7 separate regions of the Homo sapiens genome follow, and all the other regions are linked to region 6. The links come from fine-mapping of genetic effects on gene expression. A gene starts in region 6. Each other region holds a variant in brackets. All regions are shown on one strand. Distances are between the middles of the regions. Region 1 has its middle 13 kb from the start of COL4A2-AS1. Region 2 overlaps RAB20 (RAB20, member RAS oncogene family). Region 3 overlaps COL4A2 (collagen type IV alpha 2 chain). Region 4 overlaps RAB20 (RAB20, member RAS oncogene family). Region 5 overlaps COL4A2 (collagen type IV alpha 2 chain). Region 6 holds the start of RAB20 (RAB20, member RAS oncogene family). Region 7 overlaps COL4A2 (collagen type IV alpha 2 chain).

Region 1 (4,219 bases), 41 kb after region 6:
AATAATAGTAGCAAAGCTTAAAGCTCTGGTTCTGCTGAAGTCTGGGGCATCTGAGCACCCAGGTCTCTGAGTCAGAAACCCCCTTCGGGTCTGCTGCTGCTGGCCGTGGGGTGGCTGCTTTATTGGAAGATGTCAGACAGAGGTGCCAGGAGACAGCAGATTTGTTTTCCCAGAAATGTGACTGAACGAAAGCAGGCTGGGGTCGGGGCTGTTTGTTGGGAGGCAATGTGGGGCAGATGGCACTGGGCAGTGGGTTTCATAAGTGCTGTTTTCTTTCTTTTTTTTTTTTTTTTTTGTGATAGGGTCTTGCTCTGTCACCAGGTTGGAGTGCAGTGGCGTGATCTTAGCTCACTGCAGACTGTACCTCCGGGTTCAAGCAATCCTCCCGACTCAGCCTCCCAACATGCTGGGATTACAGGCATGTGCCACCATGCCCCAATAATTTTTTTTTTTTTGGTAGAGTTGGGGTTTTGCCATGTTGCCCAGGCTGGTCTCAAACCCTTGAACTCAAGCAATCCTCCCTACTCAGCCTCCCAACATGCTGGGATTACAGGGTGCTCTGTTTTCTGGGGAGCTGTTCATAATTTGCTGAAGGCCTGTGCTCTCCGGTTTCTGGGCTGCTGCAGGCCTAACTTCTCCGCTCCTGTGGAGTGAGTGCTTTCAGGCAAGGAAGGGAGCTTGAACCCCAGGAGGAAGCACTGAGGCAACCCCTGCGATTGCAGGTCCTCAGCTCCCCTGAGATGTGGTTTCGGAGTTTAAAACTTCAGTTTCGCAACAGCAGCCCATTGAGAAGTGAACGCAAATCAGCCTGACTCGTGACTTTTTATTGACTTGGTTGAATATACCACTGTAGGGACAGAAGTTATATTTATTTTCTATAATGTGTATCTTTGCTAGTGACCCATCTAGGAAATAGGCTAATCAAAGAGACCTTGGAATCTTTTTTTTTTTTTTTTTTGAGACAGAGTCTCACTCTGTTGCCCAGGCTGGAGTGCAGTAGCACAATCTCAGCTCACTCACTGCAGCCTCGAACTCCTGAACACAAGTGATCCACCCACCTCAGTCACCCGAGTAGCTGGGACTACAGGGGTGTGTCAGTATGCCTAGCTAATTTTTTATTTTTATTTTTTGTAGAGATGAGGTCTTGCTGTGTTTCCCAGGCTGGTCTGGAACTCCTGGGCTCACGCAATCCTCCTGCCTCAGCCTCCCAAAGTGCGGGGATCATAAGCATGAGCTCTGGCCCTGGCCAGAGTCTTTCTTTGAAGGCTGTGAAGGGAGAGAAAGTATCATATGGCACTGTTTTTGCAGTTGGTGCTTGAAGGCAGGGAGGGCTGTATGAATGCCTGAGGCCCGTTCTTCCTGAACAGTCTTGGATTCGATTTCCCATCTGCTCCGGGCACCCAACAGCTTGTTTCCTCGAGTGGCCGCGTGCTCCGGGGATGGTGCCCATGGGTGGCACATTCTCCATCAACTCTGTTTAAGCATTTCATCCTATATGTGTTGTCCTAAAAATAAGCATCCCTGTGGGCTCCTTTTAAATGAGTTCCTCTGGGCAGTCGGCGCTGCAGTCTCTCCTATGCTAGCAACTTCCAGCTGCCCTTACAAGTGCTTTTGTAAGGGCATGAGGGGCTCATTAATTCAGCACATCTCACTGAGCACTCTCCACGGCCCTTCCTGGAGCTGAGCTATTGGGACAGTTTCAATGACAGTGCCGCCACAGGCCCCCTGGCACCCTGTGTCCTGGGCTGCATTCCAAGTGGACCTTGGATACCAGCCTGGCTCCTCGCTGGGGAGCCTGGTCTTGGGTCCTACTCCCCCACCCTCATCTCATGTGGCCTCTGTTTCCTTCCAGAAACCACGTCAGTTCTTGGAAAGCTTGAAATCCCTCGGTTGGGCAACTCAGCTGTTGGCGCAGATTTCCCCACTGGGTGTGGGTTTGAGCTCGTGACCTCGAGCATCCGTCTTTCCTTTGTACAAAGCGGCCACTCCAGGGAGGAGATGAGCAAGTGACGGTCCAGGGTTCATGGCTGTGTGTGGTCTTGGAGCTCCCTTCTGCACTTTCCAGCTGTCCATGTCCCCATGCAGATGAGAACCCTTTCCTCAATGACACCTCATAACCAGGTATTTCCTAGTGCCCTTAAAGCCTCGTGCCTGGCAGTGGTGTCAGGGAGTCCTGGGGTTGGGTATGT[G/C]GTAATCTGGGTGCTGTCAGTCAGAATGTCCCCTTCCCCAGGCTCCCAGGCCTAGTTTCTTAAAGAGTATGACGTTGCCATTTCTGGACCCAACTTCCTGGTTTAAACAGCCCTGCTGTGCCAGGAAAACAACCTCACATGAATGTTCCCAGCACATAGATCACCCCAGCACACGGGTGCCCCCCAGTACATGGGCCCCCCCCAGCACATGGATACCCCCAGCACACGGGCTCCCCCACCAGCACACGGATCTCCCCAGCACACGGGTTCCCTCCCCAGCACACGGGTTCCGCCAGCACATGGGTCCCCCCAGCACCCAGGTTCTCCCCAGCACACGGGTTCCCTCCCCAGCACACGGGTTCTCTCCCCAGCACGTGGATTCCCCCAGTACATGGATACCACCAGCACATGGATCCCCCCAGCACATAGGTCCCCCCAGCACACAGGTTCTCCCCAGCACACGGGTTCCCTCCCCGGCACACGGCTTCCCTCCCCAGCACACGGATCTCCCCAGCACACGGGTCTCCCCAGTACATGGATCCCCCCAGCACGTAGGTCCCTCCAGCACACAGGTCCCTCCAGCACACGGCTCCCCCCCAGCACACGGATCCCCCCAGCACACGGATACCACCAGCACACGGGTTCCCCCTCCCCCAGCACACAGATCTCCCTAGTATACGGGTCCCTCCAGCACACGGGTCCCCCTAGCACACGGATCCCCATAGCACACGGGTGCTCCCAGCACATGGATCCCTCCGGCAGAGGTGAGCTGCTGCTCAAGGCCCATGAGACAGACCCCATGAGACATGGAGATGGTGCCTGTCTTCCAGAGAGAAGGGGCAATGGCTCTGAGCTCGGCCTTCACTCCGTGCTCCTGGGAGACTCTAACCAGGCTGAGTCCCTCCTGAGCAATGACCACAAACCTCTGAAGAAGGAAGAAGAGTGGGACCCGGGCCCCAGAGACCCTGGTGGGAGTGCCGTGGTGTGGCCTCCAGGTGTTTGGAGGATTTCAAAGGCACAGATCCTCCCAGCCCTGGTTGGTGGAGTCCAGGTCGTATCTTCCCTTCTGTGGCCAGGCAGAGTGGCCGGTGCCCTCGTCCTCTTACATGCCCTTATTAGAAGCACAGACTCTTCTCCACAGTGTGCAGGGGTCTTCCATCCTCCCACTTCACAGAGCTGGATCTTTCGAGCCTCATTGTCGAAACAGGACAGAGAGGATGGGTGTGGTGGGTGGACGCACAGCTGAGACCCTGCTCACACAGCTGAGACCCTGCACACACGCACAGCTGAGACCTTGCTCACACAGCTGAGACCCTGCATGCACGCACAGCTGAGACCCTGCACGTGCGCACAGCCGAGACCCTGCATGCATAGCCAAGACCCTGCACGCACAGCAGAGACCCTGCACGCACAGCAGAGACCCTGCACACATGCACAGCTGAGACCCTGCTCACACAGCTGAGACCCTGCATACACAGTCGAGACCCTGCACACACGCACAGCTGAGACCCTGCTCACACAGCTGAGACCCTGCATGCACGCACAGCTGAGACCCTGCACGCACGCACAGCCGAGACCCTGCACGTGTGCACAGCCGAGACCCTGCATGCATAGCCAAGACCCTGCACGCACAGCAGAGACCCTGCACATACATGTGCCGCCTGCACTCAGCCTCCTCTGTGCCTGCTCTGGAAGCTCTTGGGCCCAGTCCTCCCTTGTGGTCCAGGCTGCCTCCTTCAGGGAGAGCTGACGCCTTCAGAGCAAGCGTCCTTGCGTGGTTATGAAGCTCTGTGTCCCTCCCCTTCACTTTGTGTTTGCCTTGAAGCCACTGGCCCAGCCCTCAGGTATCGGATCTGGAGGGCACCTTGCTGGAGGATATGTGGACCCAAGGCCCGAGAAGGTGCCTCCTGGGTCAGGGTGTCAGTGGCCGGAGTGAGACACGCCCAGGCCTTGGCTCCCAGCCCCACCCACTTCCTCACCAGGCCCTCCCAGCTCAGTCTACGTTGGCTGTTTTCTTGGGATGTCATTGT
Region 2 (4,219 bases), 22 kb after region 6:
CACTGATGCCTGGCATCTGAACAAGTTGAACTCACTGAAGCAGAGTGGAATGGTGGTTACAAGGAGCTGGCAGGTGGGTGGGGAGAGGGAATTGGGGAGTTTTTAATCAAAGGCTACGAAGGTTCAGTTCTGCAGGCTGAATAAGTTCTGGAGGTCTAATGTAGAGCCCCAGGCAGGTGACTGTAGTTAACCAGTACCATGTGATAGGCTTGAAATTGGCTGAGAGGGTGGAGTTTCAATGTTCTGTCTGCACACCCATGGTAGCTATGTGCAGTGATAGATGTGTTAATTAGCTTAATAGGGTAATCATTTCATGATACATCAAAATATCATGTTGTACATCTGAAATATTTACAAATTTTGCTTGTCATTTATACCCCAGTAAAGCTGAGAATAAAATACAGCAAGCGTTCTGATTAAAAACAAAACAAAACTCGTCATCCTGCATGTTGTGCACATGTACCCTAAAACTTAAAGTATAATAATAATAAAATTAAAACAAAACAAAACAAAAACAAAACCAACAAACACCCTTATTATTTGGCAGTTCCTTCCCCAGGCTGTTTGCACCCCGTTCCTGCTGATGGTGGCCACTGGTTACTGTCTCCGTGTGTGAGCATCTGGGGTCTCTGATTCCAGATGTGTGAAATGTGGACACAGTGGGGAGAAAGAAATGCAACTGTGAGTATGTGTATGTGTGCATGGCATGTACGTGCATGTATGTGAGAGTGTGTGTGTGTGTGTGTGTGTGTGGCTGGACACTCCGCCTGGCACTTGAAGTAAACTCGCAGTCAGCTAGCCCTTAGGGAAGTCCCTGGAAGGAACACTGATTTGGTTAAAGGGATCAGATCCAGTTGGTGCAGGGACACTGAGGAAGCTGAGCCCCAGGCAGGCGAAGGGCTCTGGCCCAGAGAATTCCACTAATACCAAGATTAGGGCAGGCAGTTCCCTGCTAACTTGGCTGCTTTTCCTGAAAAATGAGAAGTCAGAAGGAATGGAGGAAGTTTTAAATACTTTCCAAATTGACATTGTCACTGGAAATCTTCTAGCGAATCTTGTGTTAATGAGAAGATAAGAACGAGGTGAGCTTTCATGTGGCAGTTGTATTGCTATTGTGCCTGGGCTGATAACAATTTCTGGATTGTTTGAAGACACTTCGTTCCCATGTGCTAAAGCTGGTGGCCTATTGTTTACTTAGCCAGGCACTTTTCTACAGCAGTTGCAAAAGCACATTCTAAACCTAACTAATTCCAAATCTGATTAACTCTGGCCTGTTACCCTGTGCCACAGACCCAGGCAGGAGTGATGTTCCTGAGGCCTGGGGGTCAGCTTTCACTGCTTGAGGAATCTGTTGCTGCGCCGTGACCGTGACCAGGTGGAGAGTATCAGAGGAAGGCAGGAGAGTGGTGAGGTGTGAAAAGATCAGCTGTCAGGTTTTACTTAGAGTGAGGGGTGGTCGGCTCTCACCTTGGGTTGATGAGAGGCTGAAGCGTGGCCGTCTCCTCCTCGGCAAGGTCCTCGGGCTGGCAGCAGCAGAACCCAGGACCCAGCCAGGCCTCCTGAGCCAGATTCTGTACTTTAACCCAACAGCCAGGTAACTCCCATTCCAGGGGCATGGGCAGCTGCGCGGGGCTTGCTGCAGCCCAGCAGAGACCAGCCGTGAGGGTCGGGGCAGTGGAGAGCATGCTCTTCCAGCTCCTCGCCTTCTTTGTAGACACTATTTTGCGTGAGAGAGATACGTATATATTCCATATATAATGTGGAGGTTTTTTATTGTGGTATAATATACATAACAAAATTTACTATTTTAACTTTTTTTTTTTTTTTGAGACGGAGTTTCACTCTCGTTGCCCAGGCTGGAGTGCAATGGCGCGATCGCAGCTCACTGCAACCTCCGCCTCCTGGGTTCAAGAGATTCTCCTGCCTCAGCCTCCCGAGTAGCTGGGATTAGAGGCACCCACCACTCCGCCTGGCTAATTTTGTATTTTTAGTAGAGACAGGGTTTCACCATGCTGGCCAGGCTGGTCTCGAACTCCTGACCTCAGGTGATCCACCTGCCTCGGCCTCCCAAAGTGCTGGGATTACAGGCATGAGCCACTGCGCCCGGCCTCCCTGTTTAGATTTAAAAAGTTTTCTTAATATGATATTTATAATTCAGTCTTGACTTTGAAACAGGTTAAAATGTGCTTTGAAAAGAGCTGAAATAATTTTAGTTTTACTTTATTTGGAGACATTAGCAAATACCTGCACTTTTATTTGATAATCTCATTCTAAACATTCGTTATTACAGGACAACAGAGTATCTCTTGAAGGTAAAGGAGATTGGATTACATATGCTGGCATGTGCCAGTGTGTGTTTTAAAGCTAAGTCTGTTATATACGTGTATTTTTTGGGACTTGCCTGTTTCT[G/C]TTAATATCGGAGTGTTAAAGAACATCTCTGAGTAATTTGGTTTTGTCATTGAACTATTTTTAGTACATTCATGTCTGAAGAGTGATGTGACTTGAGAACTAAGCTTCTTCCTGCTTTACATTCATCATTTTTCCAGAAGCCACGTAGTGGGCCACAGGTGGAACTACTCTACCTGCAGTTAGTGATGTGAGTGGTTCATGTGGCGTATGACACTTGCTTTATTTTTAGTTTATCCTTCAGATCATCAAGAAGAAACAACAGAAATGACACATGCAGATTTGGGTAAAAATGCATTGATGTGGCCGGGCGCGGTGGCTCATGCCTGTAATCCCAGCACCTTGGGAGGCTGAGGCGGGTGGATCACCTGAGGTCAGGAGTTCGAGACCAGCCTGGCCAACATGGTGATACCCCGTCTCTACTAAAAATACAAAAATTAGCCAGGCGTGGTGGCGGGTGCCTGTAATCCCGGTTACTTGGGAGGCAGAGGCAAGAGAATCGCTTGAGCCCGGGAAGCGGAGGTTGCAGTGAGCCGAGATTGCACCATTGCACTCCAGCCTGGGCAACAAGAGTGAGACTCCATCTCAAAAAAAAAAAACAAAAAACCCAAAAACAAAAACAAAAAACAAAAAATGCATTGATGTATATTTAAAGGTGAAAAATCCATTTTCCTGGAATAATTCTCCTCTGCCTCATATGTTGCAGTTCCGTTAACTGGAAATAGTTTTAGGTTTGGACTCTTTTTTTCAAAAAGGAAAAAAGCTTCATTTCGCGGGCAGGGGTTTGGATGGCTGTCGGTCAGTATTTGCCAAGCAGTCCTGGTAGTTGAGTCTCTGGATGTAGACAGTCATTAAGCAGGACTGCAATACTGATTTTTATTTTATTACCAATATAAACCCTTGGACTTGCTAGACTAGAAAAGTAATCATCCTCCTTTATGTCATAAAGCACAGCTATGTTTTTGAATGCCCTTTAATTGTCATAGACTATTCAGAACAAAATTAAAGCAACTATAAATGCAAGCAACTACATTGGATTACTGAATTTGAATTATTAGCTTATTTAAAAAATAAGGTCACCTAATCGCCTCCTTTCTTCCTGTGATTGATTAATTTGTCTTGAGGTTTTAGTTCTTTCTTCTGGCAGAAAAGCATTACTATTAGAGGGGTAGGGTTGTTGTCAACTCCCACAGTCATATCCGGCTGCTGGATGTTGGCTCAGAGTATTTTCTTGGTACAATTGAGCAGAGTTTTCATGAGATGTTTCCTGGATGGTGACAGGTGACCATTGTGGGGCTCTTGCCTGGCCAGGGACAGTGGAGGAAGCTTGGTCTCAGAGTAAGAACGTGAGGGAAGTGCACAGCTGAGAACACAGGATGGTTCTTTCACGGTCTCGCCCCTGCTGCCTTGCTGGGAGGAAACAGCCGTCCCCAGGGAGCTGGTTTTCTGGGAGTGGATTCAGGCATTTTGCTCTTGATGCATAGCTTGACTTTTGGGTTTGCTCAGCCTTTCTTTATTTCTTTTTCTTTTCTTTTCTTTTCTTTCTTTTTTTTTTTTTTTTTTTTTGAGAGAAGATCTCACCCAGGCTGGAGTGCAGTGGTGTGATCATAGCTCACTACAACCTCTGCCTCCTGGGCTCAGGTGATCCTCCCACCCCAACCTACCCAGTAGCTGGGACCACAGGGATGCACCACCACACCCTGCTAATTTTTGTATTTTTTGGAGAGACAAAGTCTCACCATGTTGCCCAGGCTGGTCTTGGACTCCTGAGCTCAAGCAATCCTCCCTCCTCTGCCTCCCAAAGTACTGGGAT
Region 3 (4,146 bases), 93 kb after region 6:
GAATTATTATCCTTCTCTCAAAATCATGAATGCTTAAACTTAGTATATATGAAATCATGAGAGTGGCAATGTTACACTTCTAAATATTTAGACACTTCCAGCAGGGCAACAAAACCACAGAGACCAACCCCTGGGGCAGAGGCATGGAGACTTCCTTTGCTTCATTCGAATGCAGAGTTGTTTTTACCAGGGCCTTGATACAGACACAGGAAGCCTGCTTCCCAATTTTGCAAAACATGGAGAAACGCATCATATGAAAGGAAACAGGGTCAGGGTTTGGAACAATCCCTACGGGCTGCAACACAAAATTCCGAAAGATACCATCTATCAGGGACGGACAGACACTTCTGCATTGAGGCTTAAATCAGCTATCTGAGTGGAGGTCAGGGGAGGGGCAGGGTTCAATTAGTCTTCACTGGGAACATTTGCAAGATGTTCAACCTAAGGGCGCAACAGTCCCGATGTTCTGTGTGATATTCCAGACATGGGGAGCGCTTTATTCAGTTTCTAGAGCCCAGTTGGAAAAGAATCCTGATAAGTGGGGGTCCTAGAAGGTTGCTCAGAATTCCAAGGGCATGGAACGATGTCATTAAAAGAAAGTATGTGTTCCCGGGGTCAGTTCTGCCTGTTCATGAGACGTCTGTGGGAGATGTGGCCGCCTCTCTCAGGGTGTGTGGTTATGAGGAAGTCAACTGTGTGGCTCAGGAACAGCCCGGTGAGAACTCCCTGGGAGGCAGGCTGTATTCCAGGGAGGAACTTTCTAGCAACAAGAGGGTTCCAATGTGCCACAGGTTCTAGGTGACAAGTGGGACTCCAGCAGAGGCTGCAGGAACCTGCCCAGGACCCTGTGGAAGGATGTTTCATCTCGGGTGGAAAGTTGTCCACAATGGCTTCCATGGTTTCATTAGACAAACACTATTGAAGATGTGTGCGGCCTGGCACAGTGGCTCACGCCTGTCATCCCAGCACTTTGGCAGGCTGAGGCGGGCAGATCACCTAATGTCAGGAGTTTGAGACCAGCCTGGCCAACATGGTGAAATCCCCGTCTCTACTGAAAATACAAAAATCAGCCAGGTGTGGTGGCACATGCCTGTAATCCCAGCTACTCAGGAGGCTGAGGCAGGAGAGTCGCTTGAACCCAGAAGGCGGAGGTTGCAGTGAGCTGAGATTGTGCCACTGCACTCCAGCCTGGGTGACAGAGCGAGATTCCATTTCATTAAAAAAAAAAAAAAAAAAAAAAAGACGTGTATGCCCCTGCAATCAAGGCAGTGCCATCACACTCATGCACATCGCCTGTGGCACAACTGCAAGACACCTATGTCTGCAGACGCCTGGCTGCATTCCAGAGCATGCTGACACGCAAGTGGGTACTCCTCACCAGAGCTGGTTAAGGGAAACCTCATTTTCCTCCACATACAGATTAATGCCTTAAGCTCTTGCAGCCACATTGTGAGAGGGCTATTTATGCCTTTAAGGGTTCTTTCAGGAGAGGATAACTTTGTGTTGCCCTTAGAATGTTTAATATTAATCATTATTAACACTGAGGACATACCTGGGAGACAGGTGTTGCGGAGGACAGCCATTCCGAAACACCTGTCTCCTTTTTCCTGCAAGATCTGTAGATAGCTTCTGCAAAAACCCAGTACAATATCAGTTATGAAAAATCAAGAATTTCTAATCTCCCAAGGACAAATGCAAAAGTTGTCAAGTATTTGTTAAAACAGCTTCTACAAAGTGGAAGATAATAGAGCTGGATGCTTATGAATCACACACAGGTTCCCGCTGGAACCCAGGGGCTGAATGGGGGTCTGATCTCAACTCACCTGGGGGTCCTGGGAACCCTTCACGACCTGCGTCTCCTGGCAAGCCCCTGGGCCCTGGTCCTCCATCAGCTCCTGCGAAGCCTGGGATTCCTCGGAGGCCTTTGGCACCTAAATAACCAAATAAACCACAAACCACATCAGGCTCCACGAGGATAAATGGGCATGGTCATGCTTGGCATCTGACTTAATGTGGATCTCATGAAACCGGGAAATGATGAGGCTGGGGG[G/T]AATATCAGCCTGAAACAGCACCTCCAGGCTTACAGAATGATTTTCAGTGTTTAAAATCCTGTTTACGGACTGGAACCATAAGAATGATAATATCCAATATTTAGATTCTACAGTGCTCTAAATGAGGGCTTTGGAGGTGGGGTCAGATGCTTGGCTATAAATTTTGGCCCTACCATTCTATCTGTGTGACCGTGGACAACTTTCTGTGCCTCAGTTTCCTCACCTGTAAAGTGGGGAGAAGGATCGCCTGCCTCATGAGGACGCCACGAGGACTATGAGGTGACTCTTTTCAAACACTTGAATCCTGCTTGGCCCAGTGTGTGGGCTCCAGAAGTGTTTTCTGATAATTGAAGGGCTGAGGTTCCTCAGCCATGTCACAAAACCCATCTGCCACACTTTTTTATCCCCGTTCCTGGCGCCTCTTGGGAAGGGGATGTGTGTGATCAAACCCACCCTCACTCTTAGAAAGTGGAGTGCGGACAGCAGGAGTGAGAGGGAGGAGCGGATGGGAGGCCAGCAAGGGGCTCCCAGTAATGGGGGCCTGGGCATGAAATGGAAATAACTGGGTATGGCTGGGGGAGCCCCGGAGCCTCAGAAACCCACACTCGCATCACTGGAGCTTTCCCGGAGACCGGCCTTGGCACACGGCTGTAGTCTGGGTGTGTGCTGAGCGTGCTGGCCTCTGGTTCTCCCTGACCACCTGAGACATGCAGAGTTGTCACCATTTTGGGGGTTGCTGTATGAGTGACGGTGTTGAAATCCATGGATGGAATTAGACCGGGGGCAGGTCTAATGGAACGCGGAAGATACAAGCTCAGTTCTCAGAAGACAACACAAGGAGCCTTTACCTCTGCTCACAGTGCAAATGATACCTCTGCATTTGTCCTGTGCTCCCCAGGCCCTGTGATCACGGTGCACTCCGAAGACCCCCTTAAGGTGCAGGGCACATAGAATGTGTCCGTCCACTTTCCTAACTCTCATTGCTGTTCATACTACACTGGTGTCGCTCTCTACAGTTTATCACGGGAAGCAGTGAGGGCATGATTTGTGCAGCAGGAAGCATCTAGAACACCTGTCTGCACTATTCATCTTGCATAGGTGGGGACTTAGTTCCAGAAGAAACAAGTGAGAACAGCTCTGGCTGTGTCTGGTGCTTGTGACACTGAGTTACCCAAGTGACATGCTTCCCCGGCCCCATCACAGGCCGAGTGGAAGAGACATCCAAAGGGGAATTCCTACTGCTCAGAGAACTTGCTTTTCTCAGGCTGATGGACACAGGCATAGAGCCACCTCTCAGGGTCCAGCCCTCCTCCTGCTTGAGTGGAAGCCCTGGCTCTGTGTTCCCCGATGCTCACAGGCCCACGGAGACCCTGGAGTGCAGGGCAGCAGAATCGCAGCGCAGGCGGGACGGCAGTGGTGGCCAGCCAGGCCTGCACCGCCAACACTGGACACGCAGGCGGCCTTAGGCATGGGCTCTGTGAAGGGCACCCAGACTCTTTCTCACATGGGCTGAGAGATGGCCTGGGCCAGCAGATAGAAGCCCAGGTCCTCCCAGGTGCTAGAGACAAAACACTCTAGCCTTGTTTATTCCCGTTTCCTGTTAATCAAAACCCAAATGAAAGCATCCTCTCCTGTAGGTTCTTCCCCTAGATCCTGGGATGGAAAGGCATAAAAAGAAAATACATAGAAGTGCAACCCCTTTCCAGTCCTAAACACGAGGCTTCCATCTCTGCCCCTGGGGGCGTTCCCCTGCAGCCATGGCTGAATTTTCTCTTCTAGCCTGGCCCCAACTAAGTGTCAGCTACCAGACTCCTTTTTCTATAGTGGCAAATGACAGTGGGCTCCCTGTAGGCGCAAGACCAGTTTGTGCTGAGATGCTGGACACGACCATGTCTGGGGTGGGGGATGCAGGACCAGAGGAAAGATGGGCGGGGGAGACACAGCAGTGTGAAGATGTGGGAGGAAGGCTGGGTGCACTCCAGGTTCCCTCCGTGCATTACCTGTGGGGCCTGGGGGTCCTGGCAGGCCTGGCAATCCCTTGGGCCCTCCTATGCAACCTGGGGACAGAAAGGAGAAAAGATGAGCCCAAGCAATC
Region 4 (4,219 bases), 34 kb after region 6:
GTAATTGACCTCTTCGTCTGTATGTGTTGGTGACATAAAGCTGAGCAGATCACTTACGGATTTGCTACATAGACGAGTAATAATTCCTGGACAAGTCGAACCTAGAGCCCCAGGCTCCGGTCACTCACCCATCCTCCCGTCTGCTTGGCCTGGAGACAGCCCAGGCAAAAAGGCGGGAGAGTCTGGCGGAAGGCTGGGCTCCTTCCTCAGGCTTGAACCCGTGCCCCCAGCCCTGATGATGTCAGGCCCGTGTTGGTAGTGGCCACACAGGCTCGGCAGCCTGGCTCCGTTCACCAGACCAGGGTTGGCAGCTCACTGACCCTTGGCTGCATTGGTTGAATTTGAACCAATTTGTGATTTTTCTCTTTTGCCCTGTTTCTGGGGCAGCCTGGGGCTCTGGCATCCCCAGAATTGGACCTGAGGCTGTTTATTTCTCCAGGAAAGTCCAGGTAAACCACCAGAACTCTCAGTGCTTTGGCTTCACGATTGGTACTGACGGACTCCGGTCTGGGGGAGAAGGCAATAGAGATAGAGATGCCTGATCCTGTTTCCAGGGAGAGGGACTTTGAAGTACTCAGTTTAAGCCCATACTTGTAGACAGGAAATCAATATTCTGAGAGATACAGGGGCTGACATGTGTATGGGGTTGGCAGCAGGGGGCTGACGGCCCGGCTCAGAGCACATTCACAAACTTCCAGAAAACGCGTGAGGGTCCTTGGATTCAAATACACTGTGAATCTGTCAAAGCCAAGTGCAAAAGGTCAAGTTGTAGTGACACCATTTTATTTTCATTGTCTTATGTTCACTCTCATGCCTTACATACCAGAGCCCCTACTCAAATTCAATTAGGATTAAATTCAGAACTTCTGTTCCCTGCGGGACTGGCCCTTCTTGGTGTGGACAATGCGCTCATTGAGAGCAGCCTGACTCTTCCATTAGCAATCCTAAAAGCTATACATTATCTCCAAAGCAGTATTTTAGAATTTCAAATATGAAAACTGCTTGCTTGTAAATTCTTTAGCTGGGGCAACTGCATTTAATTGGTTTGCATTCATTAATGGGTAGATAACAGATTATAGGGTTCAAGCAACAATTCTTACTTTTTTCTGGCTAGCATTTGTGATTCTTCAGTTCCTGTTTCCTTTCATTACTAAGATCTTTCCTTTTATATTATTATTTCCTTTTTTAGTTTTTTAAAGGCAAATCAGGCATTTTTATCTGGAATGGAAAACTATTTTAGGCATAGGCATCAACACGGTTCTCCCTTTGGCCCTAGTGAACTATGTAACAGAGACTTGAAAACCATTCTTCCAGGGTAGCTGGAGTGCCCCTGACTCCGCATTCCCATAGTCACACTCTTGTGAAATCTGGTGGGTAGAAGCTGATGACGTTTTTAGCTCATGTAAAAACCTCATGATGCCTGGACTGTTATCTATGGGATTAGTGTCCCTGAAACAAAAGTCTTAGTACTGTGGTAATGACGAAGAAGCATTTTTCTTTCTTTTCTGTTTTTTGTTTTTTTTTTTTTTGAGATGGAGTTTCACTCTTGCCCAGGCTGGAGTGCAGTGGCGCTATCTCAGCTCACCGCAACCTCCGCCTCCCAGGTTCAAGCAGTTCTCCTGCCTCAGCCTCCCAAGTAGCTGGGATTATAGGCACATGCCACCATGCCTGGCTAATTTTGTATTTTTAGTAGAGATGGGTTTTCTCTGCGTTGGTCAGGCTGGTCTCGAACTCCCGAACTCAGGTGATCCGCCCACCCCGGCGTCCCAAAGTGCTGGGATTCCAGGCATGAGTCTCCGGCCTTTTTCTTTCCTTTATTATTACCATTTTAAATTTATTTTAGATATGGGGTCTCACTGTTGCTCAGGCTGGAGTGCAGTGGCATGATCATAGCTTATTGCAGCCTCGAACTCCTTGGCTCAAGCAGTCTTCCCTCCTCAGCCTCCCGAGTAGCTGGGACTACAGGCATGCGTCACCATGCCTGGCTAATTAAAGTGTATGTGTGTGTGTGTGTGTGTGTGTGTGTGTGTGTGTGTGTGTGTATTTGTAGAGATAGGAGCCTTGCTATGCTGCCCAAGCTGGGCTCCAACTCCTGGCCTCAAGCAATCCTCCTGCCCTAGCCTGTTCTTTTTGAAGCTAATGCCTGCTGTATTGGGTTTTAAAGGCTTTTGATCATCATCTTCTGTAGTGGGAGAATGACTGTGGATTCCGGGGACACTGTCTGATTTCTGCCTGCTGGGGTCCAGTCCAGCTTGACTGGAAACGGATTGACTTCTCAGTCTGAAGCTGACCCCTGGTAGGCGTGCGGAAGGGAGGAATGTTGCCCTTCAGGTGCTGAATTCCAGAGCACAAGCTGCTTGCCAACAGGGTGGCTCTGTCGCCCAAACAACAGCATTCCCAGGCTGGCTTTTCCCAGAAGAGGGAGGTGACCCGGGTAGCTCTCGCACTTTGACCCTCAGACTGGCAGCAGGGCACATTCTTCTGACTCCTACC[G/A]GAGCTGGTCTGGGCTCAGCTCCCAGCTCGCTTTCCCTCCACATCCCCAAAGGGCACACTGTCGGCTTTGCTGAAGGGGGAGCTGGAGTCCACGCTCGGGGCCTGGGAGACCACAGTGGTCAGTAGACAGGTCTGTCTGGCTCTTCTCACAGGACATGAGTGTGTGTCTCTGTGGGCGCCTCTCTCCAGGGTTGCCCAAGGGGTGACCAGCCTGCCTCAAAATCCAGGCAGCATCGCCCAGCAAGGTTTGAGGACTTGGCGTCATCAGAATGTGTGGCCATTTCAGAAAGATTGGGGATGGGAATGGGATGAAATTTGGTTGTGCTTCTTGGCTATTTGGCTCTAAACAGTGGTTTATTGGCAAAGGACAGTCTGCCTTAGAGAGCCACATGTGTGCAGGTGTCATGCGTTCAGTCCATGCTCCAAAGCCCCACAGACCAAGGGGCCTTAACTTCATTTGTGTCAAGACCCCTCGGCCCCCGAGGGGTACAAGCCCAGGACCCCTTCTCAGAACACTATGCCCAAGTGCGTGCAGTCACATACAAAGGTAACCAGCTGTCCTTAAGTACAGTCGTCTTGAGCCTTTTTAAATTATGATTGATATGTGGTTCATGGTCCACATATTAATGAATGAAGGCATGGCAGGTCTGAAGGGTCGTGGGCATCACGCTGGAGTGTCTGAGGCATCTGGCATGCGGATGGAAGCACCTGCTGGCCCTGTTGGTGATGAGTGCCCCTTACTGCCATTTCTGCAGTTTGCTGCCAATATTTGTGGTGAAAGGAAATGGTAAATTTCAGGTAGAGGGTGGTGAAAACAAAGATGATGTTTTCTCCCTCATTCAAGGTCATGGACCCTGTGAATTTGGTTTATGACCCCAGTGGTTAAGAGCCCTTGCTAGTGGTCGACACTGTCCACACACTCAGGGGAAGTTGCCCTCAGAGTGACATGGGACCATTTATAATTTAGAAGCTGCCAATGATGGGCCACTGTTGCATTTTGGTTTGCCTAAATGTGATCTTTAGAAAATTTTGAATTAGTTTTGAGTGCTTAAAACTTGGGAGATTAAAATCCACATTGTTAGCTTCTTTTTAAAAAATCAGAACCAGGCTTACTTCTCCCAGGCGAGGGATTGGAATGGGGCCTGGACACTCCCTGGGTGCCACCTCTCTCTGCGCCAGTGCCCCAGCAGCCTCATCCTTGTTCAGAGGCACTTGACCTTGGCGTTCTGAGCTCGAGAGTGGAGGCCAGTGCTGTCAGTCGTTCCCAGCTCTCCCTCCTCTTGGCCTAAGGGCATGGCCCGGGAGGCCACACATGCCCCAGGGAGGAGGGGATGAGCTGGCCTGCAGCAGGTGCTATGGGAGCTTCCAGGCCTGTCTGCAGAGGCTCCTTGGGATGGCGTCTGAGCACAGGTCTCAGTCTCATTCCTCTTCGAAAGCGTGCCCCCGGCAGGTGTGGTTGGGAGCAGGTGCTTTGTGGTTGGAAGATCTCACTTGGGGTTTGCTTGTTGGTGATTGAAACAAATGCATCACCAGGAGCGTCTGTGAAGCCCCTTCCTGCCAGCAGGGAGGGCCCATGCCATGCACAGCCTGCTCGGTCCTCGAGAGGCAGGTGGGGGCCAAGGTGCATGCTGCTGCCTCTCCCACAGCTGCTTCCTGAGAGCTCGTCCCCCCAGTGCGGCAGATGTGTCCAACGATGAAAAGCACGCCAAGGCTGGGAGGACATACC
Region 5 (4,219 bases), 76 kb after region 6:
CAGACTGCAGAGCTTGCTCTCTGCAGATTATAACACAGATATGGGGCTGTGCGCCTCCATCTGTGCACAGAGGGAGACTTCTCCAGAAAGACACAGGTGGCTGGTAAGGAAATTGAGAAGATGCCTGAGTTGCTCGGTGGCTTCCTGGAAGCCCTAGTTTTCCCCTCCAGAGTGGCTTCCTCCCCAGAGGGAGCATGAGAGTTCTGGTCTACCTGGGTGCCACTGGGACTTTAGTACTACAGCATCAATGTACAAGCATGGCCTAACATGAGTCGCTGCAGTATTAATATAGCTAGGCCGGGGGTGGTGGCTCAGGCCTAGAATCCCAGCACTTTGGGAGGCCGAGGTGGGTGGACTGCCTGAGGTCAGGAGTTCAAGACCAGCCTGGCCAACATGGTGAAACCCTGTCTCTACTAAAAATACAAAATTAGCTGGGCGTGGTGGCGTGCGCCTGTAATCCCAGCTACTTGGGAGGCTGTGGCAGGGGAATCGCTTGAACCAGGAGGCAGTGGTTGCAGTGAGCTAAGATCATGCCATTGCACTCCAGCCTGGGTGACAGAGTGAGACTCTGTCTCAAAAAACAAAACAAAACAAAACAAAAGCTCCTTTGTGGGAGGAAGGGGGAGGGTATCCACAGGCTGCACCTTTGTTTAGGTAATGCTCTATTTTTCTTTCTCAAAGCTTACTTTTCTGAAGCAAAACTTAAATACAGTAATGTCCACTCATCTTAAACGCACAGCTCAATGCATCTGAACTCGTGTGTCACTGAAAGACACAGAACACTGTCAGCACTCTATGACAACCCCACCTAAAGCAGCTGTGCTCCCGATACCCCATCTAACAGCCTTGTCAGTTCTTGAACTTCACATCGATGAAACTGAATCGTGTACTTTTCTGTTTCTGGTTTATTTTGTTCAACATAAAGTTTGGAAATGAAGTTAGGTTGTTGGATTTTACCAAGAATTCTCATTTATTGCTGTGTATGGAGATAAAATGCACAGATAATGCTGTGTCTGGTTAGAATATACCACGTTCATTTATTCTTTTCCCTGTTGATGGACATTTGGGCTGTTTCCTAGTTTCGAGCTGTTATGAATAAAGGTCCTTTGGATGTTGTAGGTGTCTTTGGCAGAAACAGGCATCTTTCTTTTTTCTTGTCTTTTTTTTGAGATGGAGTCTTGCTTTGTCACCCAAGCTGGAGTGCAACGGCGCAATCTCGGCTCACTGCAACCTCCGCCTCCTGGGTTCCAGCGATTCTTCCGCCTCGGCCTCCCCAGTAGCTGGGATTATGAGTGCGCAGCACCAAACCCGGTTAATTTTTTATATTTTTGGTAGAGACGGGGTTTCACCCTGTTGGCCAGGCTAGTCTCGATCTCCTGACCACAAGTGATCTGCCTGCCTTGGCCTCCCAAAGTGCTGGGATTATAGGCAAGAGCCACTGCACCTGGCTGGCATCTTTCTTTTTTAAAGTGACCTGAATAGCACACACAGACTGGCTAGAAGATACTCTCAGCTGCAGATTTTGGGAGTGAGGGGAGGAAGACCCCTGAAGAATTCTGTACACCAAGGTGGGCCAGACAGACACACAGGCAGGCCCTGGCCTGCTACTAAGGGTTCACACTGTCAGG[C/G]CTCTGAGCCCAAGCTAAGCAATCATATCCCCTGTGACCTGCACGTACACATCCAGATGGCCGGTTTCTGCCTTAACTGATGACATTCCACCACAAAAGAAGTGAAAATGGCCTGTTCCTGCCTTAACTGATGACATTATCTTGTGAAATTCCTTCTCCTGGCTCAGCCTGGCTCAAAAGCTCCCCTACTGAGCACCTTGTGACCCCCACTCCTGCCCGCCAGAGAACAACCCCCCTTTTTCCTTTACCTACCCAAATCCTATAAAACGGCCCCACCCCTATCTCCCTTCGCTGACTCTCTTTTCAGACTCAGCCTGCCTGCACCCAGGTGAAATTAACAGCTTGATTGCTCACACAAAGCCTGTTTGGTGGTCTTTTCACACGGACGCGACTGAAACACATCAAGGGGCCCAGACCTTCTGATCTGCTCCAAATGTGCCCATCCCCCTGGGAAGGCCAGCCGTGTGCTAGGGACTGTGAGAATACACTATCTTCATATGAACGAGGCTAGAAATGGAATTCTAGGAAACGGAATCTATGGGGAGCCACGCTGTGCTATGTTATACACACTGTCTATACAGCACTCAAGAAAACTGCAAGGTAGCTACTACCTTCATTCTGCAGCTGAGGGAGAAGGTGTGGAGAAGAGAGCCCTGCCCAGGGTCAGGGCTCACCATTGTTACCATCACAACAGCGTGTCTGGCCCATGTCAAGTGCTCAACAGACATCCGCTGAACAAAGGCTGAGTGAACGGTGGCCCGGATGGGAAGCCAGGCTGCCGGGCCCAGGTCTACGCTGTGATTCGGCCATGGGCTCTCAGGCCTGGTGTCACTGATGTGCTCAATTTTAGAGCTCTGATCCCTGAAAATTCAAGTTTTGTTCTCTCAAGGCCACCATGAAAAATGCAGACAACATGCTTCACCCAGCACAAGCCCACAGAAGGGCCACGGCAGCCGGTTGGACTCACATCACATCTGCATGGTGTCCAAGTGCAGCAGCTCCTTCCAGGGCTGTGTGGACCCCACCAAGCCTGAGGCTGCCCTGAACCTGCCACTGACACTCTCACCCTAGCAAATTCCAGACCAAAGCATGTCCATTCACAAGCAAAGGGGAGAGGAGCTCACAGAACAAGGGGAGTAAAAGACGCCCACTCACCCGGCTTCCTATGAATCCTGGGAATCCCGTAATTCCAGGGGGGCCAGCCACCCCAGGGAATCCTGGCAAACCGGGGATGCCGGGGACTCCGATGTCTCCCTTGACTCCTTTGATGTGGCCGGGCCTCCCAGGCAGCCCAGGGATTCCTGACAGCCCTGGGATGCCTGGCATTCCTTGGATACCTGCAGGAAGACCCTGGTGTGTAACACTCTGGTGAGGACGCAGCACCCGCCCTCCAGTTTTCAATTTTGCAGCCTGGATGCATTTTGCTGTCCTACGTGCTGTGAATCTTTTTTTTTTTTTTTTTTTTTTTTGAGACGGAGTCTCGCTCTGTCGCCCAGGCTGGAGTGCAGTGGCGCAATCTCGGCTCACTACAAGCTCTGCCTCCCCGGTTCACGCCATTCTCCTGCCTCAGCCTCCTAAGTAGTTGGGACTACAGGCGCCCACCACCATGCCGGCTAATTTTTTTGTATTTTTAGTAGAGACGGGGTTTCACCGTGTTAGCCAGGATGGTCTTGATCTCCTCACCTTGTGATCCACCCGCCTCGGCCTCCCAAAGTGCTGGGATTACAGGCGTGAGCCACCGCGCCCGGCCAGTGCTGCAAATCTTAAGATGGGAAACCGAGGTTACTCAGGCATCAGAGAACAACCCTGCGCCAGCTATGGACACACAGGGCGCCCAGAGATGAAAAGCACGAAGAAAGCCAGGTGGAGGGCACGGGCGTCTCTGGGGACGGAGAAGGGCACGAGCTGGTGCGGGCTGGGGCGGCAGGGACTAGGGGCCCCTGGCTGCAGGTCAGAAGCCTCACCTTTTGCGCCCAGGTATCCTTTCAGCCCCATAGGCCCTTCATCTCCTTTCTCTCCTTTAATGTCTTTCATTCCTGGCAGGATGACAGGAGGTGGTCCTGGGGGCCCAGGGTCCCCTCGGCTGCCTGGAAGGGAATAGAGTGCTGTCATTTTCTGGGGGCTCCAGACCACGCAGGAGAACACAGGTGAAGGCCTGGTCCCTGAGCCATAGGGCTGCACGTCTCCCCCAAGCAGGGAAGCCTTGGAGAGAGACCAAGGGCGCCGGAGAAGCCTCTCCTGTGTCCATCGGAGTAGTTGGAGTTGGGGGTGGCTCCAGGGTCCTGGGCCTGGGGCTGGTGTCACTGAGCACACAGCACCACAGTAGGGGGACGTGCCTGCCAGCAGATGCAGAGGGAGCGGTCAAAGCCAGTGTGACTCCCATAGGATGCTTTGTGAGAAGGTCATTTTGTTGTGTGTGCTCTGATGAGACCATGATGGACCTCGGTCACAAGCAGGAAGGCCCGTGAGGCAGGCGCCAGCTCCGTGCCCTCCTGTAGGCACCTTCACAGGGAGGAGAAGCATGGAAGGGAGGTCTCCGGGGGGTTCTGAGGAGCTGAGAAATTGCAGGAGGGGAGGGGCCCAGAGCTGCG
Region 6 (4,219 bases):
GATGTGGTGGGTTGCCATATTGAGACATCCATGTAGAAAGGCTTAGTAGGTGGATGAAGAAATGGACAAAGAGCTCAGGTGAGAGAAGCAGACAGGGGGTAAAATTTGGAGAATCAAAAAGCATGCTCCAGGAAGTGATTAAACTTCCTGATGGTAAAAAAGTAGAAAGAAGTGTAAAAATTCTAGGTGAGCCTTGAACACCCGCTGAATAAATGGAGAGGTATACCATGTTCATAAATGGGACATTTTAATATTATAAAGATATCCACTCTTCCTAAATTTAACTATATATGTCATTAATGTGTTTCCTGAGGTTAGATACATTGATTCCAGAATTCATATGGAAGTGTAAATGTTCCAGAATAGTCAAAGCAACTTTGGACTAGGACTACAGGTGCACACCACCATGCATGGCAAATTTTTTCTGTAATTTTCATAGAGACGGGGGTCTCCCTATGTTGCCAGGCTAATCTTGAACTCCTGGGCTCAAAGGATCCATCTGCCTCGGCCTCTCAGAGTGGTGGGATTACAGGTGTGTGCCACTGCGCCTGGCCAACAGGCACCAAACCTGACTCATGTTTGTGTCGTCCCAGGCCAGGCACTGTAGCTTGTGTGAAAATTGTCAGAATCGAAATGGAGCCGCTAATGTTAAGAAAACCCTGACAAACAGAGCCGGGGAAGGCCATGAAGAGAGGGTTCTTGCGCGTGCATGCCTGATAACAAAAAGGACTCTCTGGAAAAACCGCAACCTTGCACAAAGGCCACTGCAATCTCCCACAAAAAACTAGTCCTGCAAGGACATGGCCCAGCCACTGGCTGTCCTACTTTGAACTGGCATCGCCTTCGTTATGGATCTTTGTAGCCACAGATAATTATTTTCAAACAATTGTGCAATCCGCCTCATTTTTTTTAAAGCCTTTGCTTTCCTTGCCTCTCTGAATATGCACAAGTTTACCATGGCATGCATATTTCTACTGCAAAGCTCTATTGCAAAATAAATATCTGTTTCTTTTAGAGATCCTCTCTGTTATTTAGGTTGTCACTTGCATGCAACAGGCATTGAATAAATGCTGAATTGACTTAAATTTGTTCTGAGGATGAGGCAGTGCTGGCTGAGAAGGAGCCGGGGTCTCCTGGTGCGCTTTCCACGCCCCAGAAGGTCCGCTTCCACCTCAGCCCCACACTGCTCGGTCTCAGCAACCTGACATGCCAGGGCTGAGCAGGTACGAAATACCTTGGCATTCCTGCCTTGTCGGAGTCTCAGGGCACCTACGAAGGAGGCAACGGGCCTATTTCCCTTTACAGGACACCTTCAGGACACGGGTTTTAACCTGCTCAGGGTCTCATCGCCTTTCCCAGCCAGGCCAGCGGCCAGAGTGACACTGTCCCCCAGGGTTTAACTTAGAGTCCATTCTACCTCTCATTTTCTCTAAAAAACCCCAACCAACCAACTAACCAAATTCTACACGCTGCATATTTTAAAAGCATTTCAAGGTTTATCCTTTAAAACGGAAGGAGGACCTGGGAGGCCGAAGCGGGTGGATCACGAGGTCAGGAGTTCGAGACCAGCCTGGCCAACATGGTGAAACCCCGTGTCTACTAAAAATACAAAAATTAGCCGGGCATGGTGGCACATACCTGTAATCCCGCCTACTCGGGAGGCTGAGGCAGGAGAATCGCTTGAAACCGGAAGGCGGAGGTTGCAGTGAGCCGAGATCGCGCACTGCTCTCCAGCTTGGGCAACAACAGCAAAACTCCGTGTCAAAAATAAAAAAAAAAAAAAAAAAAGAAGGAGGAAATATTTCTCAAGTAGCGACTGCAACTTCCATAGTCAAATTTTCATTCCAAGCTATAAATGGAGATGACTGTCCACTTTTCAGGACAAAAAGCTTCTTGCAAAAGTAGAAGAGCAAAAGCAAAATCCTCCACTAGAAAGCGCCCCCATCTCTAATCTGTAACAGTGAGAGCCTCAGGACGAGTTCCGCAGACGCTCATTTAAAGCAAACTTTTTCAATGACCTTGAGGGTGGCTGTACTTACACGCGGAGAAGCAAATCGACCGCAGCTGGAAAGGCGCTGGGTCGAGCGTGAGAGGAACACGGGTTTTACCTAAGGGAGAGTGGAAGAGAGAAGGGGGTTCCCCAAGGGCCCCGGCCCCTTCGCCTCGTTCGGGCCCCGCGGCCAAGCTCCTCGCACCGCAGCCCCGGCTGTGCAGAAGCGGAGGGGCGGAAGGTGCTCTCAGAACTTTCATTTTCCACCCTGCAGCAGTCCCGAGCCTCGGCTGGAGAACTCGGATGCTTGCGAAACGGCGAGGTCCAGCAGGGGCGGGACGGGGGCGGTGGGCGGAGGAGGATAGGGCGGGGCCGCGGCGGTGAAAGGGCCCGGGGGCGGGGGCGGGGGCGGGGCGAGGCGAGGCCGCCGCGGTCCGGGCCCCCGACGTGGGCTCCGTGCTCTGCACCCAGCTCCTTCCCGGGCGCGCACACGCGCTTCCTCTCTTGAGCTCCCGGGCGTCCGGAGGCGAAGGTCCCGGAGCGTTCACGAGAATCCGGGTCCCGGCGAGTCCGGGGTCCGCTCCTCCAGCTGCGCCCAGGGCGCACGAGCCGGCCAGCCTCGGGGAGAGGGCGCGGGGGCGCTGGGGGTTCTTACGGGAAGATGAGGAAGCCCGACAGCAAGATCGTGCTCCTGGGGGACATGAACGTGGGGAAGACGTCGCTGCTGCAGCGGTATATGGAGCGGCGCTTCCCGGACACGGTCAGCACGGTGGGCGGCGCCTTCTACCTGAAGCAGTGGCGCTCCTACAACATCTCCATCTGGGACACCGCAGGTGAGGCCGGCGCCGCATGAGCCACACCGCCCTGGGGCTCCGCCGGGGACGGGGGGCGCGGGGCTTCCAGCAGGGCACCCGGCCGCGCACAGGGTCCCGGCCTCGGACAGCAAATGCCTCCTTCTCGGGGTTTCCCACTCGTCCTCCCTTGCTGGTTGGGCTGAGCGCTGCCTCTCAGCCACTCAGTGACCTCAGGGACAACCCAAGTTGCAGAGAACCCGCTGGTCATTTGTGTACCTAAGCTGCCTTTGCTCCCGAGCCCCGCGTTCCTGCTCTGCCGCCCTGGGAACCAGAGACGCTCCTCTGTGGCTGCTTTGTTAGGTATTTTCAGTTTTCACGTACCCGTAGGAACATGATATCCTTTGAGATTCACTTGAGGGGTGAGCAGAGCTGGTGTTATTAGCCCCTTTCTAAGAAAAAGTAAAATGAGGCACAGAGTGTTCCCCCCTGTTGGGTTTAGTCAGGAGAGAGGAAATAAAACTGGAGCCTCCGGACCTCTTAGCCCGGAGCATATCTGCCTTTTACAGTTAATCTTCTGCTTGATCTTGGCTCAGATACGTCATATGGGTTTGGGTTGGAGTGACTTCCGGTGGAAGCATTTTTAAGATAGGTAATGAGTTATTTTTATTGTGTAGTATTTGTGACTTTTCAAAAGTACAACTTAGAGGATCTCAATTCAGGCTTTCTGTTTAACTTTGGAAAATAACACTGGTGATTGTAGCATTGCAATGGAATATATTTCCTTCTCCTTACAAAAGAATAAGATATTGTAAGTGAATGAAGAAACTGGAAATAGTGTGACACATTTTCAATGAGTGTGAGTTTTTAGAAGCCTGAAACTCTGAAAGTTCTGACTTCTTTTATGTTAGCATCTTAAAAAGTCATATACCCAAAGGCCCCGTCCAGAATTCTTAAATTGCCATCTTGGGTGTATCAGTATGCTGAATAAACAAGATGATAATGAATTCTCTCTTTAAAACTGAATTAACGAAGCTCACAGAGGTACTTCCAGTTCTCCCCCTCCCTTTTGCCTTCTTTGATGCTTTTTTATTATTATCCCAGTTAACATCGTGACTAATTTATTGGCAATCATCTTGTGAAAACAATGTCCCCCAGGTAAAGAGGTGCATTTCCCTGATCTTTGCTCCAACTCTGTCTTCTGCCTCAGGCTGCAGGATGAGGTTTACTGAGCTGACTCCCTCACACTGAGCATTTGGTAACGATGGAACACACGCTCTAGAAGTCAAATCGAACCCAATTCACGAACCCAATTTGCTTCTGTACAAAGTCAAATTGAACCCAATTTGGTTTTGTACAAAGCTTTGCCCCTCTGCTGCTTTTGCTGGTTGGCTGGGATTTACTGCTGCCCTTGGTTTACAAGTAGCAAGGTTAATGC
Region 7 (4,197 bases), 56 kb after region 6:
TGTGGACCGCGATGGCGATGGCCGGGGCCTCACACACAGAACAGCGGCTGATGTAGGGCTTGATCTCGTCCTCGGCCACGGGCATCATGGGCAGCGGCGCAGTGGTAGAGAGCCAGTAGGACTTGTCGTTCCGGCTGGCATAGTAGCAGACATCACCAGGGTTGCAGTACAGGAAGGGCATGGTGCTGAACCGCGCCAGGCAGGAGCCCGCCAGCCCTGTGGAAGGAGGGGTCATGAGATCACAGTGCAGTGTGGCTAGAAGACGCACCTGCCAGCCCCAGCCAGGCCCAGGAGGCTGTGTGTCACGGACTCGCCCCAGGGCACCTGGTGGAGTTTAGCCACCTACTGGAGGGCCAGGCTAAGGCTTCCCAATTTCTTTCTTTTTCTCTTTTTGATCAGACTCCACTGGCATTTTGGAACAGCTCTGTTCTTCTACAAGTTCTCACACATACTGGGCCAAGTTGGATCACCAGGGAGTGGCGTCTTCATGGAATAGCATTTTGGGTGAGCCTTACCTTAGTGGGGTCTTAACAGCACTGGCCCCAAGAAAACTCTGATGGCCTCCAAGGGGTCGCTCTTTGACCCCAAGGAGCCACCCCAGAAGGAGTCCTGGCCCTTCTCCCTTCCATGTAGCTTTATTGCTTCTGGAGACTAAGATAGCCTTTATCTCCTGGCCACAACGAATGCTGCAGCTAAGCAGGTTTCCCTCTTCACATGGATTGCTGAAAAGCTCAGACCCAGAAGTGCAGCCACCTTTAGCAAACATGCCCGGTGCTAGGCTGCCTCCTTGGCCCTGTTCCTAGATCTATTTTTGGCCCTTATCCTTGGCGGCCTTTGCCCCGTTGTTCTTTAGAAACTCATTGTGGAGGCGGGGCGCACAGGCAGGAATGTGAAGGCACCATGAGCCAGCAACATGCTTCCCGGGGGCAGAACGCCTGATGTAACCTGCACCGAGGAGGCAGAACACAGCCAGTATCCCAGAGACCCTTCCCGTCACCCCCTCAAAGAGGACCTCAGACTAAGCTACCTCCACTTGTAATTTGTGTGTATTGCATTTTCTGTATTCGAAGTCGCGTTAATGCCTTTCAAAGGCTTCCTTAAATAAGAGCATGCACACGTGTCCATGGGTCCATTTTCCTCGGGGGGCTGTATGGGAGAGTCTTACATGAACCCCAGCCCCTCATGGCCCCTGCCTGACTCCAAGTCTACAGAACTTGGGTCAAAAACAAGAAGGAGGTGAAGTAATTGGTGGTCTCCACTGGAGAGGGGTCGGGGGTCAGACGGGTCACATGGGAGCCTGCGGAAGTCAATACCAGGTTAAAAGGCAGGTCCCTGTGTTAAGGTCCTGAGGTTTAAGGGCTTTGTAAGGCTTCTGCTTCAAAGGCCGTTTTAATCTTTCTGCACTCGAGGAATGTAGATGGACCCTTCCGTCAGGGGAACTTACCAGCCGTGGAGGGTTTGGGAGTCTCGCTGTGGCCCTTTGATCTTGGCCACTTCCGGGCCAGCCCTGAGCAGGCAACGGGGGCCGGGTGGGAGGTACCTACCCAGGTCCTGGTTGTGCGCCTTCTCCTGGCCCTCGAAGTACAGCAGGCTGTATCCACTCCAGAGTTTGTTCATGCCCACTGGGCACATGGGCTCCTGGTCCGTCTGGCTGTGCTTCACCAGGAGGTAGCCGATGCTGACGCTGCGGCCTGGCATACCCGGCAGGCCCGGGCTCCCTGGACGGCCTGGTGCACCTGCAGCCCGAGAAAGAGAGAGAGTGGACGGCCTGGTGCACCTGCAGCCCGAGAAAGAGAGAGAGTGGACGGCCTGGTGCACCTACAGCCTGAGAGAGAGAGAGAGAGTGGACGGCCTGGTGCACCTGCAGCCCGAGAGAGAGAGAGAGAGAGAGAGTGGACGGCCTGGTGTACCTGCAGCCCGAGAGAGAGAGTGAGTGGACGGCCTGGTGCACCTGCAGCCTGAGAGAGAGAGAGAGTGGA[C/T]GGCCTAGTGCACCTGCAGCCTGAGAAAGAGAGAGAGAGCAGCCCCCTTGACAGCCGCCCCACAGAAACCTCGGGACCCAGGAGTGCAGGGCAGTTTCCAGGTGCGCCTAGAACCATCGCTCTCCTTCCCCAGATCTTGGGGCTCAGTCTGTTGAGATCAGGAGACTCTTGGGAAGGATTTGATCCACACTTTGTTCTCAGTAGCATGAAATGATGGCAGTGAGGGCACTGGGCACAGAGGAGGGGTCCTTTCCATAAAAGACTCAGTCAGCCATAGGTAGGCATGTGCCCCTCAGGATGTGCCCAACGTGCCTGGCGTTGGAAGTGTCCGGAGGAGTATCGCAGGCCAGCCCCCACCCCCAGCAGTGGCCTCCCTCCGCTGGACACTTCCAGGAGACATGGCTCATCGCAGGCCATGCTGACTGCGCACTTGACCACAGCCTGGGTTAGAATGTTCTTTCTGCGTGCAGCCTCCTGTAACTCCTACCCGAGGAGCACACGGGGGTGGCTCATCTGCCTCCAGCACAGCAGCTCTGTGAATATTTCTCAGCTATCCCCAGTGACCCTTTCTCCCATTGTCCCCTCCCCTTCCAAGGGACACCCATGGTCATGGCCCTTTCTCCCAGGACACTTCCCCTCCACCATCCCTAGCTTGTCTCCTACCCTGGGCGGGCTCCCATTTGCTGGCATTTGTTTTCAGGTGCACCCCACACTACCCATAATTTGCCGGCTGCGGATCTGTCCCCAGGGGCAGGGGACTGCTATTTCCTTTGACTTGGACACCAATAGTACTACCCATGTTTAATTTTCTTTTTTTTTTTTGAGACGGAGTCTCGCTCTGTCCCCCAGGCTGGAGTGCAGTGGCGCGATCTTGGCTCATTGCAACCTCCACCTCCTGGGTTGAGGCCATTCTCCTGCCTCAGCCTCCCGAGTAGCTGGGACTACTGGCGCCCGCCACCACGCCCGGCTAATTTTTTGTATTTTTAGTAGAGACGGGGTTTCACCGTGTTAGCCAGGATGGTCTCGATCTCCTGCCCTTGTGATCCGCCCACCTCAGCCTCCCAAAGTGCTGGGATTACAGGCGTGAGCCACCGCGCCCGGCCCCTATGTTTAATTTTAATTTTAATTTTAATGCTCAGACCATTGGCTCAAACTGAGCTCAGGTTGATTAAGACAAATTTTGAGGTTTTTTTTTTTCATGAATAGCTGTTATTCCTGGCCTATTTCATTCTGTATATGTGCAAATAATTTTAAAAAATAAGACGACCAGGCACGGTGACTTACACCTGTAATCCCAGCACTTTGGGAGGCCAAGGCTGGCGGATCGCTCGAGGTCAGGAGTTCGAGACCAGCCTGGCCAACATGGTGAAACCCCGTCTCTACTACAAATACAAAAAAGTTAGCTGGGTATGGGGGCACATGCCTGTAGTCCCAACTACTTGGGAGGCTAAGACAGGAGAATCGCTTGAACCCGGGAGGCAGAAGCTGCAGTGAGCTGAGATTGCGCCACTGCACTCCAGCCTGGGTGAGACAGAGCGAGACTCTGTCCAAAAAAGAAAAAAAAGTAAGACAGGGCTTCGCAGTGCGGCTCTTGTACATTTTAATAGTCGGTTTCTTTTGGCTCCTTGTCTAATCCTGACCCTTGAAGTCTACTGATCCCTGCCGCCCACTCCACAGCACCGCAGGTGTCCCAGGAAAAGGAGGGAGGCTGTCCCAGGACTCGGGGCCAGGTGTTCTGCTGGGCATAGGAGTGTAGCTGCTACGCCCAGATTAGGAGCAGGAGGGTGGGGCAGCGCCTCATTTCTGGCTTTTCTGGGCTCTCGTGTGTCCCCTTCCTGCAGACCACAGTCTGTGAGTCAGATCCAGAGCACTAGGACCTGGGAAGGTCCTTCCCCACTGTCACTCACCTTCTTGGCCAATCGGCCCCTGGTGGCCTATGGGTCCTTCATCTCCCCGGAAGCCGGGAACAGCAGACACACCACCTCTTCCTTGGGGCCCAGCTTTCCCTGGAGCCCCACGGAAACCTGCAAGCCACCAAAGAAGCGTTATGGCTGGAAACTGACCACGCCTGGCACGGCCGGCGATCCACAAAGAGAACACAAGAGGACGCAATGCCAGCAGGCCCTGGCCTTGCCCGGGCAGCCCCGAGGGGCTCCAGGCCCCAGCTCAGCACTCTACCTGGTTCTCCGGGGGGGCCCTGGGGCCCCATCTCCCCCGG

Evidence for each region. PIP is the estimated chance that this variant, and not a neighbour inherited with it, causes the effect.
Region 1: its variant is fine-mapped to the expression of RAB20 in whole blood (TOPMed, PIP above 0.99).
Region 2: its variant is fine-mapped to the expression of RAB20 in whole blood (TOPMed, PIP above 0.99).
Region 3: its variant is fine-mapped to the expression of RAB20 in monocytes after LPS (Fairfax 2014, PIP 0.95).
Region 4: its variant is fine-mapped to the expression of RAB20 in tibial nerve (GTEx, PIP above 0.99).
Region 5: its variant is fine-mapped to the expression of RAB20 in whole blood (TOPMed, PIP 0.92).
Region 7: its variant is fine-mapped to the expression of RAB20 in whole blood (INTERVAL, PIP above 0.99).

What each region holds. Positions count from the first base shown.
Region 1 is chr13:110,518,652-110,522,870 of GRCh38, reverse strand. No RefSeq gene overlaps it. Among named protein-coding and RNA genes, the nearest start is that of COL4A2-AS1, 13 kb to the right of the region's middle. RefSeq lists enhancers at 936-1,015, 4,212-4,219. The variant G/C (reference allele first, on the strand shown) is at 2,190.
Region 2 is chr13:110,538,351-110,542,569 of GRCh38, reverse strand. All of the region lies in intron 1 of RAB20 (RAB20, member RAS oncogene family), which reads left to right. Among named protein-coding and RNA genes, the nearest start is that of RAB20, 21 kb to the left of the region's middle. RefSeq lists a silencer at 3,687-3,736. The variant G/C (reference allele first, on the strand shown) is at 2,410.
Region 3 is chr13:110,467,002-110,471,147 of GRCh38, reverse strand. COL4A2 (collagen type IV alpha 2 chain) reads right to left here. Exons shown (of 48, transcript NM_001846.4): 27 at 4,052-4,108; 28 at 1,824-1,931. Among named protein-coding and RNA genes, the nearest start is that of COL4A2-AS2, 5.8 kb to the right of the region's middle. RefSeq lists a silencer at 1,212-1,417. The variant G/T (reference allele first, on the strand shown) is at 2,051.
Region 4 is chr13:110,525,724-110,529,942 of GRCh38, reverse strand. The region is part of intron 1 of RAB20 (RAB20, member RAS oncogene family); the gene reads left to right. Among named protein-coding and RNA genes, the nearest start is that of COL4A2-AS1, 20 kb to the right of the region's middle. RefSeq lists a silencer at 2,187-2,481 and enhancers at 3,662-3,731, 4,182-4,219. The variant G/A (reference allele first, on the strand shown) is at 2,494.
Region 5 is chr13:110,484,401-110,488,619 of GRCh38, reverse strand. COL4A2 (collagen type IV alpha 2 chain) reads right to left here. Exons shown (of 48, transcript NM_001846.4): 33 at 3,593-3,715; 34 at 2,784-2,965. Among named protein-coding and RNA genes, the nearest start is that of COL4A2-AS1, 22 kb to the left of the region's middle. RefSeq lists enhancers at 1,036-1,872, 1,873-2,710, 2,711-3,548, 3,549-4,219. The variant C/G (reference allele first, on the strand shown) is at 1,629.
Region 6 is chr13:110,559,952-110,564,170 of GRCh38, reverse strand. It overlaps RAB20 (RAB20, member RAS oncogene family), which reads left to right and starts at 2,449. Exons shown (of 2, transcript NM_017817.3): 1 at 2,449-2,823. The coding sequence starts at 2,652. RefSeq lists silencers at 2,320-2,769, 2,661-2,850, 2,830-2,889.
Region 7 is chr13:110,503,954-110,508,150 of GRCh38, reverse strand. COL4A2 (collagen type IV alpha 2 chain) reads right to left here. Exons shown (of 48, transcript NM_001846.4): 44 at 4,158-4,197; 45 at 3,887-4,003; 46 at 1,545-1,736; 47 at 1-216. It overlaps COL4A2-AS1 (COL4A2 antisense RNA 1), which reads left to right. Exons shown (of 3, transcript NR_046583.1): 1 at 1-52; 2 at 400-504. Among named protein-coding and RNA genes, the nearest start is that of COL4A2-AS1, 2.1 kb to the left of the region's middle. RefSeq lists enhancers at 1-49, 50-551. The variant C/T (reference allele first, on the strand shown) is at 1,980.